Linked DNA regions of Homo sapiens. The protein of the gene in region 6 purifies or fractionates together with the protein of the main gene of each other region. This does not show direct contact. Each region holds a gene or a part of one and is shown on either strand. Other genes may lie near its edges.

The links.
Region 1: the proteins of ULK3 (region 6) and DEK purify together in Homo sapiens (affinity purification with mass spectrometry; one large-scale study listed by BioGRID and IntAct). This does not show direct contact.
Region 2: the proteins of ULK3 (region 6) and RCL1 purify together in Homo sapiens (affinity purification with mass spectrometry; one large-scale study listed by BioGRID and IntAct). This does not show direct contact.
Region 3: the proteins of ULK3 (region 6) and RCBTB2 purify together in Homo sapiens (affinity purification with mass spectrometry; one large-scale study listed by BioGRID and IntAct). This does not show direct contact.
Region 4: the proteins of ULK3 (region 6) and NUP210 purify together in Homo sapiens (affinity purification with mass spectrometry; one large-scale study listed by BioGRID and IntAct). This does not show direct contact.
Region 5: the proteins of ULK3 (region 6) and TPR purify together in Homo sapiens (affinity purification with mass spectrometry; one large-scale study listed by BioGRID and IntAct). This does not show direct contact.

Annotation. Positions count from the first base shown.
Region 1 is NC_000006.12:18,233,531-18,237,030, forward strand, and holds part of DEK (protein DEK), read right to left. Parts: intron 3,071-3,500; coding exon 2,922-3,070; intron 1-2,921. UniProt on the Homo sapiens protein: Involved in chromatin organization.
Region 2 is NC_000009.12:4,795,944-4,799,443, reverse strand, and holds part of RCL1 (RNA 3'-terminal phosphate cyclase-like protein), read right to left. Parts: intron 1-3,500. UniProt on the Homo sapiens protein: As part of the small subunit (SSU) processome, it plays a role in 40S-ribosomal-subunit biogenesis in the early pre-rRNA processing steps at sites A0, A1 and A2 that are required for proper maturation of the 18S RNA.
Region 3 is NC_000013.11:48,523,081-48,526,580, reverse strand, and holds part of RCBTB2 (RCC1 and BTB domain-containing protein 2), read left to right. Parts: intron 1-1,823; 5' UTR 1,824-1,922; intron 1,923-3,500.
Region 4 is NC_000003.12:13,410,323-13,413,822, reverse strand, and holds part of NUP210 (nuclear pore membrane glycoprotein 210 precursor), read left to right. Parts: intron 1-3,500. UniProt on the Homo sapiens protein: Nucleoporin essential for nuclear pore assembly and fusion, nuclear pore spacing, as well as structural integrity.
Region 5 is NC_000001.11:186,311,152-186,313,702, forward strand, and holds the end of TPR (nucleoprotein TPR), read right to left. Parts: coding exon of another isoform or gene 2,530-2,551; 3' UTR 1,744-2,529; coding exon of another isoform or gene 1,618-1,743; 3' UTR 1,222-1,617; coding exon of another isoform or gene 1,024-1,221; 3' UTR 501-1,023; downstream 1-500. Other genes in the region: PRG4 (proteoglycan 4 isoform A preproprotein), read left to right, coding at 1-19, 289-445, 1,024-1,221, 1,618-1,743, 2,530-2,551.
Region 6 is NC_000015.10:74,837,888-74,840,156, reverse strand, and holds part of ULK3 (serine/threonine-protein kinase ULK3), read left to right. Parts: intron 1-443; coding exon 444-599; intron 600-783; coding exon 784-889; intron 890-1,106; coding exon 1,107-1,147; intron 1,148-1,411; coding exon 1,412-1,514; intron 1,515-1,652; coding exon 1,653-1,717; intron 1,718-1,812; coding exon 1,813-1,891; intron 1,892-1,964; coding exon 1,965-2,005; intron 2,006-2,269. UniProt on the Homo sapiens protein: Serine/threonine protein kinase that acts as a regulator of Sonic hedgehog (SHH) signaling and autophagy.

The DNA.
Region 1 (3,500 bases), on a different chromosome or scaffold from region 6:
GGCAAAGGATATGAACAGACACTTCTCAAAAGAAGACATTTATGCAGCCAACAGACACATGAAAAAATGCTCATCATCACTGGCCATCAGAGAAATGAAATCAAAACCACAAGGAGATACCATGTCACACCAGTTAGAATGGAGATCATCAAAAAGTCAGGAAACAACAGGTGCTGGAGAGGATGTGGAGAAATAGGAACACTTTTACACTGCTGGTGGGACTTTAACTAGTTCAACCATTGTGGAAGACAGTGTGGCGATTCCTCAAGGATCTAGAACCAGAAATACCATTTGACCCAGCCATCCCATTACTGGGGATATACCCAAAGGATTATAAATCATGCTACTATAAAGACACATGCACATGTTATGTTTATTGCGGCACTATTCACAATAGCAAAGACTTGGAACCAACCCAAATGATAGACTGGATTAAGAAAATGTGGCACATATACACCATGGAATACTATGCAGCCATAAAAAAGGATGAGTTCATGTCCTTTGTAGGGACATGGATGAAGCTGGAAACCATCATTCTCAGCAAACTATCGCAAGGACAGAAAACCAAACACTGCATGTTCTCACTCATAGGTGGGAATTGAACAATGAGAACGCTTGGACACAGGAAGGGGAACATCACACATCGGGGCCTGTTGTGGGGTGGGGGGGACGGGGGAGGGATAGCATTAGGAGATACACCTAATGTAAATGACCAGTTAATGGGTGCAGCACATCAACATGGCACATGGATATATATATATATATATATATGTAACCTGCACGTTGTGCACATGTATCCTAGAACTTAAAAGTATTAAAAAAAAGAAAAAAATTGTTTGCCCCTTGTTCTTTCCCTGCAAAACCCCAATCCCGAATTGGTCTAACCACTCATTTTTCTATGGTTAAGCCCAGACTACAGATTGCTGTGGGAAAATAACTTTGAAGAGACTGGTCTCATTTTCAGTTCATGGCATTCATCTTCAAAGGCTCCTCCCCCTGGAGCTCCCAGTCAGGCTCTCTCCTTTCATTTCCACCAATGGCAGTTTCATCTCCTTATTCAAGTGTCTCACACTGCTACTGTCAGCCAAAAAGCCATTATTATGAATTCCTTCAATTTTCTGACAGCACTTTCCCCTCCAGTTGTATCTGGATTCATCAATGGTTCTTAATTTTGCCTCCACAGGACCACCCTTCACCTCTCCTGTAACTTCTCCTTTCCCACCAAATTGCTTTCTCCCCTCCACCCCTACTACCCATTAAAAATACTTTCTCACCTACTCCCATTTACCTACTATTTTCCTTCCAAAGACAGCTGCTTGAAACAGAAGTTACTTTGTTCATTTTCCTCACTATTCATTAATAACTCTTGCTTTTACCACCCTATGTCATCGTCTCCTAATTGCAGACTCCAAAACAGGTCAGTTCCTTCTCACCTGACCTCTCCATGTTATTAATCCCTTTAAAAAATTTACATGAAGGTATTCACAAAAATCCTTCTAATGGACAGAACTAATTTCTCTTTGACTTCCTCTCCACTCCACACTGTCATTTTAATGATGATATAACTGGGTGTCCTGCCTCTCTCATCTCATCCTTTGCTATTGCATTGTTCTTAATGTTTCTAGGATAACTTTTAAAAATAAAAATATGATTGCGTTATGCCCCTGCTAAATCTCAATAATCTACATAGCCTCTGAATTCCTCATTTATTTCAGGAAGAAACTCAAACTCTAACATGGCATATTTAAGATCTGCAAAACTCTAATATTTTCTCCTAACTTCTGTGAGGACTTCTTTCCAATCCTAGTCTTGAGACATGTTGAACTAATACTATTCCTTTCAATTATTGTTTTGGTTAATGTGTTATTGTTCCTCAACTGTATAGAATGGGTGATGCTCCACTAGGAAATTCAGTTAAGAGCTCTTCCAAGATGCTTTTCCAGATTCCCCCAGCCTCAAGTAGGGTGCTTGTTCTGTGGCACTGCAGTACCTTCCATATTCTAACACAGCCCTCGCTTACAATATTTTAATTACTAAAATATTTATCTCTTTCCATCCCACTAGACTGTAAGCTCCTCTTGAAAGCTAAGTAATGGCTTCTCTGGTTCCACCTGTAACATTAAAAAAAATTTTTTTTTGGTAGAGACGGGATCTCACTATGCTGCCCAGGTTGGTCTTGAACTCCTGGCCTCAAGCAGTCCTCCTGCCTCAGCCTATCAAAGTGTTGGGATTACAGGCGTGAGCCACCACATCTAGCTTCTACCTGTAACATTTAGCCCAGTGCCTGAAATGTAGTAGAGAATCAATGAATGGTGAATGAATGAACAAAATAATAATCAATGTCCTTTAAAAAAGCACAGACTATTTCACTTTTGGTACATTCCAAATTGTAATTTTATTTTACCCCAACAGACAAGTTTCTAAAATTTCCATAGAATCCCTATGGAATCATATTCAAGACAAGGCCACTTTATTTCCTGAGAAGTATTAGAAATATTAGAAAGACGCTGCAGAAGTCTGAGTTAAGAACCTAATCTATAACAGCTCATTTATCACACTAAGAAGAGAATAAGACGGTTCATGAGATTCTGCTTCTTTAAACTAACATAAACTAAGGATACATCAATAGAAACAACCTACAGATCAGAAAAAGTTTCCTATGTGGTTTGGAATGTGTCACTTTAATTTTATTCACTCTAACTTTATTCATTTTAATGTTGTTTATAAAATAACTCTATTAGGACAGAGACTTTGACTATTTTAAGTGGTATCCCAGCACCTGTAAGGAGATCTGGCATATAGTAGTTCAATAAATCTTTCTTCAATAAGTGAATGCACGTAAGTATTTAGCTTCAAATTCAGAGATAAGTGAAAGAATTTTTCTAGCAAAAGCAAAATAATCTAAACATTTGTCTAATTACCTTTTTGCAAATCTGTTTCATTGTGACTTCTTCCAAGTTAGCACTGGCCAGTAATTTCTTTATTGTTTCCTTTAACTCTTCATCTGTAGGGGGTTTCTTCAACTTTTTAATTAAAGGTTCATCATCTGAACTATCCTCAGACTCACTTTCTAAAAGTAATATAATAATAATAATTTTTCTTACATAGTAAATTAACATTTAACAAAGGCTGAGATGAATTTTAAGCTTTCAACAGATTCTCAAAGGGGTACTGGATCAAAAAAATTATAAATCACTACTCTACAGTTACCTATAAAACATGCATACAAATTTTAGTCAATTTGAAAAATCAAAAACTATAAAAAACTGGTATACAGGTTAGGCATCCCTAATCCAAAAATCCAAAACCTGAAATGTTCCAAAATCCAGCTTTTCAGAGCACCAACATGACACCACCAGGAGGTAATTCCATACCCGACCTCGTGTGACGGGTCGCAGTCAAAACTTGGTTTCAGGCCAAGGGCAGTGGTCCAAGCCTGTAAACCCAGTGCTCTGGGGGGCCAAGATAGGAGACTCGCTTGAGTCCAGCAGTTCAAGGCT
Region 2 (3,500 bases), on a different chromosome or scaffold from region 6:
TTGTACCATAGTTTTTCCATATATCACCATTGGGGGAAACTGGATAAAGTACAGACAGGATCTTTCTGCATTATTTATTACAACTGCATGTGAATCTACGATTATCTCAAAATAAAAAGTTTGTTTTCTTAAAAAAGATGGTAGATAGTTCCATCTGAAGTAGCACTTACGGCCAGGCACTGTGGCTCTTGCCTGTAATCTCAGCACTTTGGGACAGTTAGGCAGAAGGCTCACTGGACGCCAGTAGTTTGAGATCACTCTGATCAACATAGTGAGATCCCATCTCTAAGAAAAAGAAGAAAAGAGAAAGAGAGGAAGGAAGGGAGGGAGAAAAAGAGGAAGGAGAGGAAGGGGAGGGAAGGAGAGAAGGAGGGGGAGAGGGATGGGGGAGGGAGAGAGGGGGGAAGGGGGAAAGAAGACAGGGAGGGAGGGAAGGGGAGGGAGAGAGGAAAAGAAAAGAAAAGAAAAGGCAAGGCATTTATACAACAGCTTCCAAACAACACTGTATCTGAAAACTGGTCATTAGGATTCTTGGCATTTGCCTTTAAAAAAAAAAAAAAAAAAAGAAGAAGTCTTATTTTGGGCAGCCAAAAATCATCACTTGGAAGCATACTTTGTCATCAGAGGCACAAAAGGGTATGTTCCTGATTAACAGGACATATTCAATCTACAGTTAGTAGTAAAGTTATCTGTTACGCCCCAAAACCAGTTGTCCATCAAGAATTCTGGGTCCCAAACCAGGCCGAAATAAAATATAGGCACATCCTCCTTTTAAAGGATCCAAGTTAGGAACAGCCAGATTTATTCCCAAAACAATGCACTGGTTTACCAAAACATGTTTTACCTTTCAAAGGACCTCTTTGTGGCATGCTTCCTCAGCACATTTTAAAGGACCCTTTTGATTAAAACTCCACTTAGCTCTTCTTTTTCAGAATCTTATCTGCTTAAGCCATATGGAGCACTCCCCCATGGGACCAAGTAACTCCTCTCAATTTCACAGGGGAAGACACTAAGGCTTAGTTACATGACCTGCTCAGGATCCTGGGTAGTAGCAGTCCTGTCTTCTGACTCCTATGTCACTGCTCTTGTTCAAGTCCATTATTTCTGCTATTCCAACTTTAAACAATTATTCTGGTGGGATTCTCTTCCATTTAGACCTCACATTATACAGAGACTGTTAAACTGAACCCTGCAGGACACAGTCCTCATGAAATCCAGAGATAGAGGCACTTTGGACAGCTGCTTTATAATACTGATGAGGAACACCCAGGTCCATCACGCTGTGAAATGAGAGAGAACAGGTCCTTCAGGCAGGAGCTGGCCACATTCTCTTTCCAGCTCTGTCCCTCACTACACGTTTGTCTTCACCAACTATCTTACCTAACTACGGGTTGGCTTTTTTACCTTGAGTAAAACAGCAGCAACAAGAAAAAATATTTACTTCCTCTTCAATGAAAGGAAGAGTACAATGAGATAAACTTAATTGTTCATGTTCCTCAAAACGGAAGCATAAATTATACATGTGGCTGGACAATTATAATCACCAGCCCGGGACCATCCTTCTTTGGGGTTCAGATTCCTTTCAGTATTTACAACCCCTTTGCAATGGAAGGGGACAGTTTTAAGAGATTCAATGATTTGCCTGAAGTCACAGAGTTTGATCTGTGTCTCATTTGTTTCTAAATCCTTGTGTAGTCTTCTTGGTGTCACATGCTGCTATTCCTAATCATTAGGGATACAGGGAAAAGAAAAGGTTTAATTACTACTGTCAAGTAGGCCAGGGTTTTTCTACATCAGCACTACTGACATTTTGAATGGATAATTCTTTGTTGTGGGAGGCTGTCCTGTAGGATATTTAGCAGCACCCTTGGATTCTAACCACTAGAGGCCAGTAGCATTCCCCTCTGCCAAGCTGTGACAACCAAAAATGTCTCCAAATGCTCCCAAATGTCCCCCACTGAACAAAAGTGCCCCTGGTTGAAAACTACTGTGCTTTACATATAACATAGAAATACGTGGAAACAACCACCTAGGAGAAGAACTTTACAGAAGGCATAATTCTCTTCAAATATCTGAAAAATTTCCATATAGAAGCAGGAACGGATTTGGCATGCCAGGGAGCAGACCTATACCCAGTGGGTTCAAGCTACATAATAATAAAATCAGCTAACATTTATTCTTCCTATGTGCCAGGCACTGTTCAGTACACTTTGAAGTATTATTTCATTTAGTCCTCACAATAACCCTGTGAAGTCAGTAGTACTGGCCCCACTTTACAGGTGAAAAAGTTGAGGCTCAGAAGAGAATAGTTAAAATAATTTGCCCAAGGACCAAGAGCTAATAGCGAAAGGCAGAACTCGTACTCAAACCAAGGTCCAATACTGACCCCAAGCTCTTAATTGCCAAGTATTATGACCATGACAAATTAAGGATTTTACCTCAGTAAAATAAAGAAAATAAAGAACTTTTTGACTTAAAAACTGTTTCTTTCATATGGAGATTTCTCAAAGAACTAAAAATAGAACTACCATATGGCCCAGCAATTCCACTACTGGGTATCTACCCAGAGGAAAAGACATCATTATACAAAAAAGGCACCTGTACTTGTATGTTTATTGCAGCACTATTCACAATACCAAAGTGATGGAACTAACCTAAGTGTCCACCAATGGTTGACTAGATAAAGAAAATGTGGTATATATACACTATGGAATACTACACAGCCATAAAAAAGAATGAAATCAGGCTGGGCATGGTTATTCATGCCTGTAATCCCAGCAATTTGGAAGGCTGAGGCAGGACGACTGCTTGAGTCCAGGAGTTCAAGACCAGCCTCGGCAACATAGACAACACCCCATCTCTACAAAAAAAATTTTAAAAATCAACTAGATGCTGTGGTACACATCTGTAGTTCCAGCTACTCAGGAAGCTAACGTGAGAGGATCACCTGAGCCCAAGAGGTTGAGGCTACAGTGAGCCATGATCACACCACTGCACTCATGACAGAGTGAGACTCTGTCTCAAAAAAAAGAATGAAATAATGTCCTTTGCAACAACATGGAGCTAGAGGCCATTATCCTAAGAGAACTAATTCAGAAACAGAAAATCAAATACTCCATGTTCTTACTTATAAGTGGGAGCTGAACAATGGATACACATGGACTTAAACATGGAAATAACAAACATTGGGGACTGGAAAAGGAGGAAGATTGAGGGAGATTGAAAAATTACCTATTGGGTACGATGTTCACTATTTGGATAATGGGTACACCAGAAGCCCAGTCCCCACCAGTAGGCAATATATCCATGTAACAAACATGCACATGTACCCCCGACTCTAAAATAAAATTTCTTTAAAAAAAGAACTGTTTATTTTGCAAACAATGATTTCCGCAGCCACCATCTCAATCCTATCTGTCCAGATCAGGTCCAGAAAACCTGCCTTCCTTCGTAACTTTCAGGGAAGTGTCTGCTCTGAACTCCACTGAGCCCCTGTACAA
Region 3 (3,500 bases), on a different chromosome or scaffold from region 6:
CAGTGGTGCGATCATAGCTCATTAAAAAAATTATTTATTTTTTATTTTTTGAGATAAGATCTTTGTCACCCGGGCTGAGTGCAGTGGTGTGATCATGGTTCACCGCAGCCTCCACATCCTGGGTTCAAGCGATCCACCTATCTTAGCCTCCCAAGTAGCTGGGACTACAGGCGTGTACTACCACGTGTAGCTAATTTTTAAGTTTTCTGTAGAGACGGTGTCTTCCTATGTTGCCCAGGCTAGTCTCAAACTTTTGGGGGCCTCAAGCGATCCTCAAAGTGCTGGGATTACAGGTGTGAGCCACCATGCCTGGCCTTCCTAGGGTATTGATTCAATTTTATTTTACAGATGGCTAAAGAAATTATAGTTTATGAGTTTTCATTACCAAACGTTTATTGAATTTCCATGTCCTTGGTAAAGGCAAAATTAGAATGATAGCATTCTCATTTTAAGAGTTTATTTTCTTTAACATTGGGTAACCTTAATCTCTCCATCCTGAGATGATTAATTTAAGCTTAAAATCTTGAAAACCATCTTGTCAGATGGAAAAGCTGTAGCATACCAATTCATTGACAGAGTTACATGGGACCTTTTATCTTTGGTATTCCCTCCACCAAAACTTCCCCACGAAAAAATTCCCATCAAAGTCTAGCCATGCATATGTTGGTATCCATAACACATTAAAATAGTACTGTCTTCTGCATGTTTTAAAATGTTATCAAATATCAAATGTTATCAAATGATACCATATGTATCATTTTGTGACTTAGTGATTTTGGTGAACATTGTTTTGTAGATATACCTGTTTTGATTCTAGATAATTTATTTTAATAGCTATATAGTATGCATATGCCACAGTTTATTGGTTTTGTTGATCAATTTGTTCTTTCTTGCTTTTTGCTATTGGGAATATTTGTGTGTATGCTCTAGAGTTTATCTAGGGCAGTGTTGCTAAAATTGCAGGACTTGTTAGTGATCTGGAAATTAGTGGGCTGAGATCAGCATTTTCTTTTAAAATGAAATTGAACAAGATAAAATAGGATAGAGTAGGGTAGAATAAAATAGCATAAAGTAGAAAAATGGAAAAGATATCAAGCATCTCATGTAGGAGGAGTAAGAATTATTTTGTGAAATTTCAGTTATATATACATATATAACTGAATATATATATATATATATATATATATATATATATATATATATATATCATGAATCCTTTGCTCACTTTTGAATTGTGTCGTTTGTTTTATTCTTACTGATTTGCAGGCATTCTTTATATATTTTGTGTATGGATCCTTTCCAAGCTGTCCATTATGCATGTTACAAATATCTTCCCCCATTCTGTGGCATATTTTTCCTTTTGTTCAAGTTTACTGCTCTTTTCTTTGTGTTTTATGCTTTCCTGTCTTATGTATGAAATCTTTAACTGCTCTGAGGTCATAAATATATTTCTATACTTCTAAAAGTTTGAAAGTTTTGCTTTTTTTTACATTTCCACATGGATTCTCTTTTATTTTCCATATGGAAATACTATAGATTAAATTCTCCTTAGTGTGCATTTTTTCATGTGTTTCAGTGTCCAAATTGTTGAAACCCTCTCCTGAAGCTTATAAAGTATGATATTCTAAAGTTACATTTTATAACTTTAGTATTTTTATAATAGAGCATCTCTGCTGCTGACTTTTTAATAGTAGATAGCACAGATACAATTTTTAAGCTGTATTTTTCTCAGATAAAGAATGGATTGTTAAATGTGCAAGACAGTATATTCTTTTCCTTCTGTTTTTCTCTAATAGAATTTATTTGTGTATTTATATTTCCAGTCACATTAACTTTGCTCTAGAAGACAACTTTACAAGGATCTAAAAGGAACAGGATTAAAGATGACTGAATACTGGGTTCCAGAAATTTAAAACAATCAGGTACAAAAGTTTTTGGAGGGAATGCTCCCAGCCAGTCAGTATAAAATAGAACTGTTGAGAATGTACACAAGAAAAACTTAAAGTATCTAGCCCTGAAATACAGTGGAGGGTCCCAAAACAAGGGCTTTGGAATAGTCCTGGTTCAAATACTGGCTCTGACACTGATTGGTTGGTGACTATTGGTCACGTTACTGAAATGTGTGAATAAAATGGAGGCAATGATTAACCTGTTTCATTTGGATATTATAAAGATTAAATAAGGTGAGGCACTTAGTGCCTGGCACAGAATAACTTTATTTTTACTGTTGTTATTGCTGTTGTTATTTAGAATACATTTTATCACATCATGGATATGGCTTTCTGTATGTATATTGTGAATTGTTATTTTAAGTATATATATCAACATATTGTTAATAGCCTGGTGAAATCACATGGATAACAGGGTAAGGTAATCTCCACGTGTAGTGCACAAACTATACATGCAAATTGGGGATGATAGTTTTCTTTATTATGTATGCATCACATTGAAATAATGTAAAAAAAAAAGCCAACCATCTCCCACAATGCTAAAAAATTCAAAACACTTTTTAATAGTATTATACAATAGTAATTAATCTTGATTTATTTTTAAATCTTGAAGGACTTTCTGATTGACAAATATGAAATTATGTTAATCTTACATTTCATTCAATTTGAATCCTGCATGTCATTTCTTTGAATGTGGTAATTTCCATGACATACATACAATTATGTCTTAACCTGATGTCAGATAAACAGAATGGCCTGTTTTCCTACCATTCTAATTTTAAAGAGTTTAATTTTACTTGAAATTGATAAAAGACACTGAAAAGAGGTTATTTCCTACTCAAAAGCCCAGGATCGGTTTTTCATGATTTTAGCACATTAGGAAGATTTCCCTTCTGCTAGGAACGAAAGGGGGCCTAGGGTAGTGCAGTGAGGGGCAGTCACATCTCTACTTGGTCCCTTCTTTTTTCTCTTCTCTCCCTCTTTCTTCTCCTCTCCTTTTATTTTTTATTCCAGTAAACTTGGGGCAAATATGGAAAAAGTGTTTCCTGATAGGGTGAGGCAGAAGGAGAGGGAACTTTGGTTACAGGCCAGTTCCAGTATACAAAAAGCTGGGTTCTAAGGATGCTTTGTATGAATACGTTGCGTTTTACTCTGAGCCATGGGCTGTGGGTTATAGCAATGAAGGAATCGTCTGCCCTTTTGAAGAACTTACCAATTAATAGAGAAGGTACATCATACAAGAATAACTGTCATATGAGGCAGAATTTGAAAAATGCCTTCAATGTAGTTAAAAACAAAACAAAAAGTGCTGTGGAAATACAGAGAAGAGGTCCCAGCCCATTTGGGTAATCAGGATCCACATTGATGTAAATCTCAGTGGCAGTCATGCTGGGTCTTAGAGAAAATTAGGATTTTAACAGATCTGCTAAGATGCCATAGATAATATGTAGTAAGTATTAATTAAAATGACAGAATATCTTTCCATATTGTCAATCAGATCGGTTTATAAATTTTTAAGTGAGAAACTTCTAAGTAATCTTCTAAAAAGCA
Region 4 (3,500 bases), on a different chromosome or scaffold from region 6:
TAGGTGTAGAGTTCTGTGGCATGAAGTACGTTCACAATTGTTGTGCAGCCACCTCCACCATCCACCTTCAGAACTCTTTCATCTTCCCAAATGGACACTCTGTACCCATTAAATAGCAACTCCCTATTTTCTCCTGCTCGGGCCTTGGCCAACACCATCTTTTCATTGTACTCTTTGATGTTTGCCTGTCTCCCAAGAGAACAGGCAGACGCCTAGAGTCTTTGCAGGTAGCAGCTTCCCCCCAGGACTTACTGACACTGCTTTGAGTCATCTGGATGGATGACAAATGCTGTGATATTCTTATTTACACTAGTGTGTAAGGTTTCCTTTTTTGTTTGTTTGTTTTTTTTTTTGAGACAGAGTCTTGCTCTGTCGCCCAGGCTGGAGTGCAGTGGTGCGATCTTGGCTCACTGCAAGCTCCGCCTCCCGGGTTCATGCCATTCTCCTGCCTCAGCCTCCCATGTACCTGGGACTACAGGCGCCTGCCACCACGCCCGGCTAACTTTTTTTTGTATTTTTAGTAGAGATGGGGTTTCACCATGTTAGCCAGGATGGTCTCGATCTCCTGACCTCGTGATCCGCCCGTCTCGGCCTCCCAAAGTGCTGGGATTACAGGTGTGAGCCACCGCGCCCGGCCTCAAGCAATTCTTCTGCCTCATCCTCCTGAGTAGCTGGGGCTACCGGCATGTGCCAACACGCCTGGCTAATTTTAGTATTTTTAGTAGAGACGGGGTTTCACCATATTGGCCAGGCTAGTCTCGAACTCCTGACCTCGTGATCTGCCTGCCTCGGCCTCCCAAAGTGCTGGGATTACAGGCGTGAGCTACTGTGCCTGGCTTTTTTTCTTTTTTTGAGACAGAGTCTTGCTCTGTTGATCAGGTTGGAGTGCAGTGGCCTGATCTCGGCTCACTGCAAGCTCCGCCTCCTGGGTTCACGCCATTCTCCTGCCTCAGCCTCCTAAGTAGCTGGGACTACAGGTGCCCGCCACCATGCCCAGCTAATTTTTTGTATTTTTAGTAGAGACGGGGTTTCACCATGTTAGCCAGGATGGTCTTGCTCTCCTGACCTCATGATCCACCTGCCTCAGCCTCCCTTTTTTTTTTTTAATTGAGATGGAGTCTTGCTGTATTGCCTGGGCTGGAGTACAGTGGCAAGATCTTGGCTCACAGCAACCTCTGCTGCCCAGGTTCAAGCGATTCTCCTGCCTCAGCCTCCTGAGTAGCTGAGATTACAGGCATCCACCACCATGCCCGGCTAATTTTTGTGTTTTTAGTAGAAACGGGATTTCGCCATGTTGGCCAGGCTGGTCTCGAACTCCCGACCTCAGGTGATCAGCCCTCCTCTGCCTCCCAAAGTGCTGGGATTACAGGTGTGAGCCACCACACCTGGCCAAGGTTTCCTTTTAAAGTAATTTTTTAGTAAAGAAGAATCCATTTAATACAATAATAAGAAAAGGGCCGAGCATGGTGGCTCATGCCTATAATCCCAGCACTTTGGGAGGTTGAGGCAGGAGGATCGCTTAAGCTCAGGAGTTTAAGACCAGCCTGGGCAACATAGCGAAACCCTGTCTCTACTAAAAAAAAAAAAAAAAGAAAAGGAAAATAAAGCTGGGTGTGGCACAGGCACCTGTGGTCCCAGCTACTCCTGAGGCTGAGGCAGGAGGATTGCTTAAACCCAGAAGGTCAAGGCTGCAGTGATCCATGATTGTACCACTCTACTCCAGCCTGGGCAACAGAGTGAGAGCCTGTCTATTAAAAAAACTAGGCCGGGTGCAGTGGCTGGCCAGATGCAGTGGCTCATGCCTGTAATCCCAGCACTTTGGGAGGCCGAGGAGGGCGGATCACCTGAGGTCAGGAGTTCGAGCCCAGCCTGGCCAATATGGTGAAACCCCATCTCTACTAAAAATACAAAAAAAATAGCTGGGCGTGGTGCTGGGCGCTTATAATGCCAGCTACCTGGGAGGCTGAGGCAGGAGAATTGCTTGAACCCGGGAGGCGGAGGTGGCAGTGAGCTGAGATTGCATCACTGCACTCCAGCCTGGGTGATAAGAGTGAAACTGTCTCAAATAAATAAATAAGTAAATAAACGAATACAAGTCATACCTGTATGTGACTGGGCTAGGGCAGGTGTCCAACCAAGAGGAGCCTGATGGTGGGGAGGGGCCGTCGGCAGGTGCAGGTGTCTAGGCAACTGCCCTTCCTGGCCACAGCCTGCAGGTCCAGAGGCAGGGGCTTCCAGTGTTGCAGAGGAGATGTGGGGGTGGTGACAGGGGGGATGGACAGAGGGAGCCAAAATGAAAGAACCAATTTTTCTGTTAATCCCTTTGCATACTATGCCCCCACTTAATCCTAAAAATGAACAATAAACAAAACTCCTTTGGTAAGAATGACTGCACTGTACAAATGAGGAGCCTGGGTCCAAGAGCCTCACAGCTGGTTAGTGGCAGAGCTGTGTCCAAAACCAGCCTCAGATCCAGAACCACACTCACTCTCAGATGCCTGGGGAAATGCGCCACCCTTCTCAGATGATTGTTGGTTTACCCAGTTTCCTTCAGCTGGATTTTAAAACTTCAGTAGTACTTTTATTTTTCTGAGACAGATTCTTGCTCTATCACCCAGGCTGCAGTGCAGTGGCACAATTATAGCTCACTATAACCTCAAACTCCTGGGCTCAAGTGATCCTCCCTCCTCAGCCTTTAGAGTAGTTGGGACTATAGATGTGAGCCACCACGCCCAGCTAATTTTTAAAATTTTTATTTATTATTATTATTTTTTAGAGACTCACTATTGCACAGGTTAGTTTCAAACTACTGGCCTCAAGCAATCCTCCTACCTTGGCCTCCCAAAGTGCTGGGACTAAAGGTGCATGCCACCACACCTGGCTAATTTTTTTTTTTTTTTTTTTTGAGACAGAGTCTTGCTCTGTCACCCAGGCTGGAGTGCAGTGGTGCCATTTCAGCTCACTGCCAGCTCCGCCTCCTGGGTTCACACCATTCTCCTGCCTCAGCCTCCCAAGTAGCTGGGACTACAGGCGTCTGCCACCACGCCCGGCTAATTTTTTGTATTTTTTAATGGAGACGGGGTTTCACCATGTTAGCCGGGATGGTCTCGATCTCCTGACCTCGTGATCCACCCGCCTCGGCCTCCCAAAGTGCTGGGATTACAGGTGTGAGCCACCGTGCCCGGCCTTTTTGTTTTTTTTTTTAGAAATGGGGTCTCACTGTTGCTTAGTCTGGTCTCAAACTCCTGGTCTCAAGTGATCCTCCTACCTTGGCCTCCCAAAGTGTTAGGGTTACAGGCATAAGCCACCATGCCTGGCCCAGTGGTGCTTTTAAAAATCAGTATTGGCCAGGCACAGTGGCTCACGCCTGTAATCCCAGCACTTTGGGAGGCCAAGGTGGGCGGATCACCTGAGGTCAGGAGTTTGAGACCAGCCTGACCAATATGGAGAAACCTCATTTCTGCTAAAAATACAAAATTAGCTGGGTATGGTGCTACATG
Region 5 (2,551 bases), on a different chromosome or scaffold from region 6:
AAAAACTTTCTTCTTTAAGGTAACACAAATATCTTTGTGAGAGAAATTTAATAATAATTTGTAACTGCATTATTTATTACAACATATATTGCCTTAACCTCCAATATGTGTCCTTTTAAATACTCTGTCATCAAAATTTAATCATAATTCAACAGTTTGATAACAGTAATGGTCAAAATTCAACCGTTTAACCAAGTTAACACGTTCTCTCTATACTTAAATCTAGAAAGGAGTTCCAAATCTTTTTTCCCAAAGCTGATAACATAATTTTCTCTTTTAAATTATCAGGATTCTCAGTACTGGCGTTTTACCAATGATATAAAAGATGCAGGGTACCCCAAACCAATTTTCAAAGGATTTGGAGGACTAACTGGACAAATAGTGGCAGCGCTTTCAACAGCTAAATATAAGAACTGGCCTGAATCTGTGTATTTTTTCAAGAGAGGTATGTGTTACATAATTGACAAGATTACAAAACTTTTAAAGAATTACACTCAGCATTTTCATTTATTATTGACTTTACTGTCAAAAGATATCTTTAATGGCTGAAATCAAATATTTTCAGTGAAAAAAATCAATATTGAGGGTAGTATTCTTATTGCCCTCAATTTTTATTTTCATTTCTTCACAGGCAAGTCACAATTCATTTGAGTTTTCAGGTCACTGATAGAATGTCATTTACTTTCGCTTCACAAATGTGCATGTCATCCTTGCACAAGGGCCATGCTAATCTCTGTATCATTCCAGTTTTAGTATATGTGCTGCCAAACTGAGCACTTGTCACTTTCAATTGAAATTAAATATATAACTATGTAATTTGCTGCATCTATTCATTCAACAAGTATTTCAGTTTAATAATTATTTTTATAATACCCTTGACTAATAGCCATTATTAATATCAATATATTATATGAAAAATGAGAACAAAACTGTTTCCTATACATTGTAAAAGTTGTTTTCCACCTTTTCTGAGGGTATTAAAATTAATTTTCATTTTCCATGTGATATTCTAATACATAACAGGTGGCAGCATTCAGCAGTATATTTATAAACAGGAACCTGTACAGAAGTGCCCTGGAAGAAGGCCTGCTCTAAATTATCCAGTGTATGGAGAAACGACACAGGTTAGGAGACGTCGCTTTGAACGTGCTATAGGACCTTCTCAAACACACACCATCAGAATTCAATATTCACCTGCCAGACTGGCTTATCAAGACAAAGGTAACATTTTTATTGTGTTAAAAAAATCCTTAAACATAAGTAGATGTAATACAGTTTCTTATACAGTAAGGCTTATGAAATATGGATACTGATCAAACAGCCCTAATAATTTAAGCTTACTGATGAAAAACTCATCCACTTGCCTTAGTGAATAACCAAAGACCAATACTTTCTTTTTCCTTGTGGGTAAGTAAAGCAGTTTGTTCAGGTTTGTTAGTTATAACCAATACTATTTATCAAGTACTTCTTACCAAGAACATTATATACCAGTCTATAACCCTCAATAGTTCTACATCAGAGGGCTAAAACTGAGATTAAAACTCAGATGTCTGGCTCTTTCCAAGATAGTACATTGCCTTTTAATCTGGTATCTTTTATTAAACATGCCACTTACAGGTGTCCTTCATAATGAAGTTAAAGTGAGTATACTGTGGAGAGGACTTCCAAATGTGGTTACCTCAGCTATATCACTGCCCAACATCAGAAAACCTGACGGCTATGATTACTATGCCTTTTCTAAAGGTAAGGTATTAACTAACAGTTTCCCAAGGAGGTGATATCATTTGTGAAAACATGAAGATAAAGTAAAAATGCTGGCTGCAATGATGACTGAATGTGAGAAGTTACACTACGGTACTTATTCTAATTGCTGTGGAAAAGAGTTAAGACTTTTGCTTTAATTTCAATTAAAATGATGGCACTGCAATTCAATTCTGCTCTAACCTTCATGAGATTACGATAAAACATCCAGTTACTAGAGTAAACTTGCTACTGACAATAGTATTTTACTTCTATCATTTGTGGCATTTAACAGATACCTTGTTTGGCACAAGGTTATAATGATTTGCATCACTGCAGAGTCTGTAAGATCAGAAAGAAGTTCCTGAGAAACTAATTTTATTAATTAAATTATATTACTCAGGATGCTTTTCTTTGAAATGCCCAGAAATCTAAGTTATTCTGCCTGTAATTTCATAATATGAATGACATTGGCATGTATTTTTTAAAAGGAATAACCCCAAGTAAATTATTTTTCAAACTTGGTTACTCTTTAATGTTTACTTCATAAAGGAGAGCTGAACCTGATTTTACAAAAAGATGGTGAAATGTCAATCTTTTGAAACATCAAAAAAGCTGAAAAGTCTAGGCAATTGTTTTTCTTTTTGTTATAAAGTTCAAATTAATTAGTAAAAACATCTCTATTAAAATGATAAACATTGTCTTTGAGCATAATAGTCAACATAAGTTATTTTTTAGTTTGGGCATTGTTTTCTTTTTAACTAAAAAAATGTTTTCTCTTCCATTTAGATCAATACTATAACATTGATGT
Region 6 (2,269 bases):
CTGCAGAGACTGGAGTATGGGCTCCAGGCTGCCTTTGTGGTGGAGGGGCAGGTTCTAGGCTGGAAGTCGAGGTGCCAGGCTGTCCCAGGGCCTCAGGTCAGCCCACAGCTGGCAGCACAGTGCCCATTTTGCAGGCCCTTGTGGGGAGAATGCAAAGCAGAGCCAGGCCCAGCCTTCCTAGGAGCATAGTCCAGGGAGGGAAATAAGGACCCAGAAACACGATTCTAGCTCAGCTCAGGGCTCCAGCGAGGGTGCACCGGGAGCCCAGGGATGGAGGCCTCGCTCCCCGCTGGCTCCATCATCCTGACCCATCCTGTTCCTCCTCGGTCTCAGATTCCCCACCTGTCCAACGCGTACCTCTGGGGTTCCTCGCAGACCCCTGGGCTAGGGGTAGGGGTGGAGGAGCCCAGTGTGATCTGTCCCTGCCGTTCCCTTCCCTGCAGCTCCCCTTGCGGCCCCTGCTCTCCCGAGACTGCCGGGACCTACTGCAGCGGCTCCTGGAGCGGGACCCCAGCCGTCGCATCTCCTTCCAGGACTTTTTTGCGCACCCCTGGGTGGACCTGGAGCACATGCCCAGTGGGGAGAGTCTGGGGCGAGCAGTGAGCAGACGGCTGGGGCTGGGGTGGGCTGAGGGTGGGCTGGAGGTCTCCTTGCCCCCGTTGGTGGTGAATTGGTGACTCACCCAACAGAGACAGAGGGCGGGCTCAGGGGAGCTGATCTCCCATCTTGGTGAGTGTGGGAGGGTAGGGAGGTGGACCTGACCCCTGATCTGCCCATCCCCAGACCGCCCTGGTGGTGCAGGCTGTGAAGAAAGACCAGGAGGGGGATTCAGCAGCTGCCTTATCACTCTACTGCAAGGCTCTGGACTTCTTTGTACCTGCCCTGCACTGTGAGTCCCAGGCCATGCCTGAAGCCCGTGGGTGCAGCAGGGATGGGAGTCATCTGTGGCTGCAGTAGGTGGATTCCAGAAGTTCTCTATCTAGAATTTTGTAGGCGATAAAGCAGAGCGTAAACCTGGAATATTGTGTTTTGAGGGATTCCAGAGGGTTCGTTGTGGGGCAGGGAGGGGTTCGCCCAGACTCCTCATATGACCTCACTTTCTGCAGATGAAGTGGATGCCCAGCGGAAGGAGGCAATTAAGGCAAAGGTGGGTGAGAGTCCCCATGAGGAAGTGGGGGGGCAGGGGGTAAGGCCCGGAGATCTCGGGGGCCTCTGGGGAATGGCTCTCTTAGAATTGGAACTTCCTCTCCTGCAACACAGAGCTGGGAATGGGTCAGGCCAGCCACATTTGCCCCCTGACATGTTTATAGCTTGAGGCAGTCACTAACAATGCAAAGGGAGAACTTGGAGGTGGGTTCTGGCAAGGGTAGCTGGTGAGACAGCCCCTCCTCAGGCCCTTTCCCTGCTACAGGTGGGGCAGTACGTGTCCCGGGCTGAGGAGCTCAAGGCCATCGTCTCCTCTTCCAATCAGGCCCTGCTGAGGCAGGGGACCTCTGCCCGAGACCTGCTCAGAGGTAGACTCCGGTTTCTGGCTGACCCCAGGGCCCCCAGCAAACCTCCCCACAGCCTGAGGGGGAGGCGGGTGGGGAGAGGCATCCTGCAGCGAACAGGCAGGTTGCTTCCCTCACCCTGAGCCTTTCCCCTCATCTCAGAGATGGCCCGGGACAAGCCACGCCTCCTAGCTGCCCTGGAAGTGGCTTCAGCTGCCATGGCCAAGGTTTGTGCCAGTGGGAGGGGTCCAGGTGGGTCGGGGCAGGGCAGGGAGATACCCAGGCCATGACCCTAAGCAGCCTGGTGTCCTTGTGGCTGCAGGAGGAGGCCGCCGGCGGGGAGCAGGATGCCCTGGACCTGTACCAGCACAGCCTGGGGGAGCTACTGCTGTTGCTGGCAGGTGAGGGCCCCCATTTATGCCCCCCACAGGGCCTCTGGCCACCCTGTCCTCACCACACACCCTCTCTTTACAGCGGAGCCCCCGGGCCGGAGGCGGGAGCTGCTTCACACTGAGGTGCCCACTGAGCTTGAGAGGGTTGGGGGGCTTCCTCTTCCCCTTTCTCTGCTCTTACCTGTGGGGACCTCTTTGGGTTCCCTCTGGAATGTCCCACTGTCAGGGTGTTCCAAGTCTGGAAGTCAAACCATAGGGCTGGGGTGCTCAGACAGGGCAGTGGGGGATCTGGGAACCCAGCAGCAAAAAGTCTGGGAAGGCTTCCTGGAGGAAGGAGCAGATAAGGGACTCAGGAGGCAAGTTGTTCTGATGGGGCAGAGGGTTCTG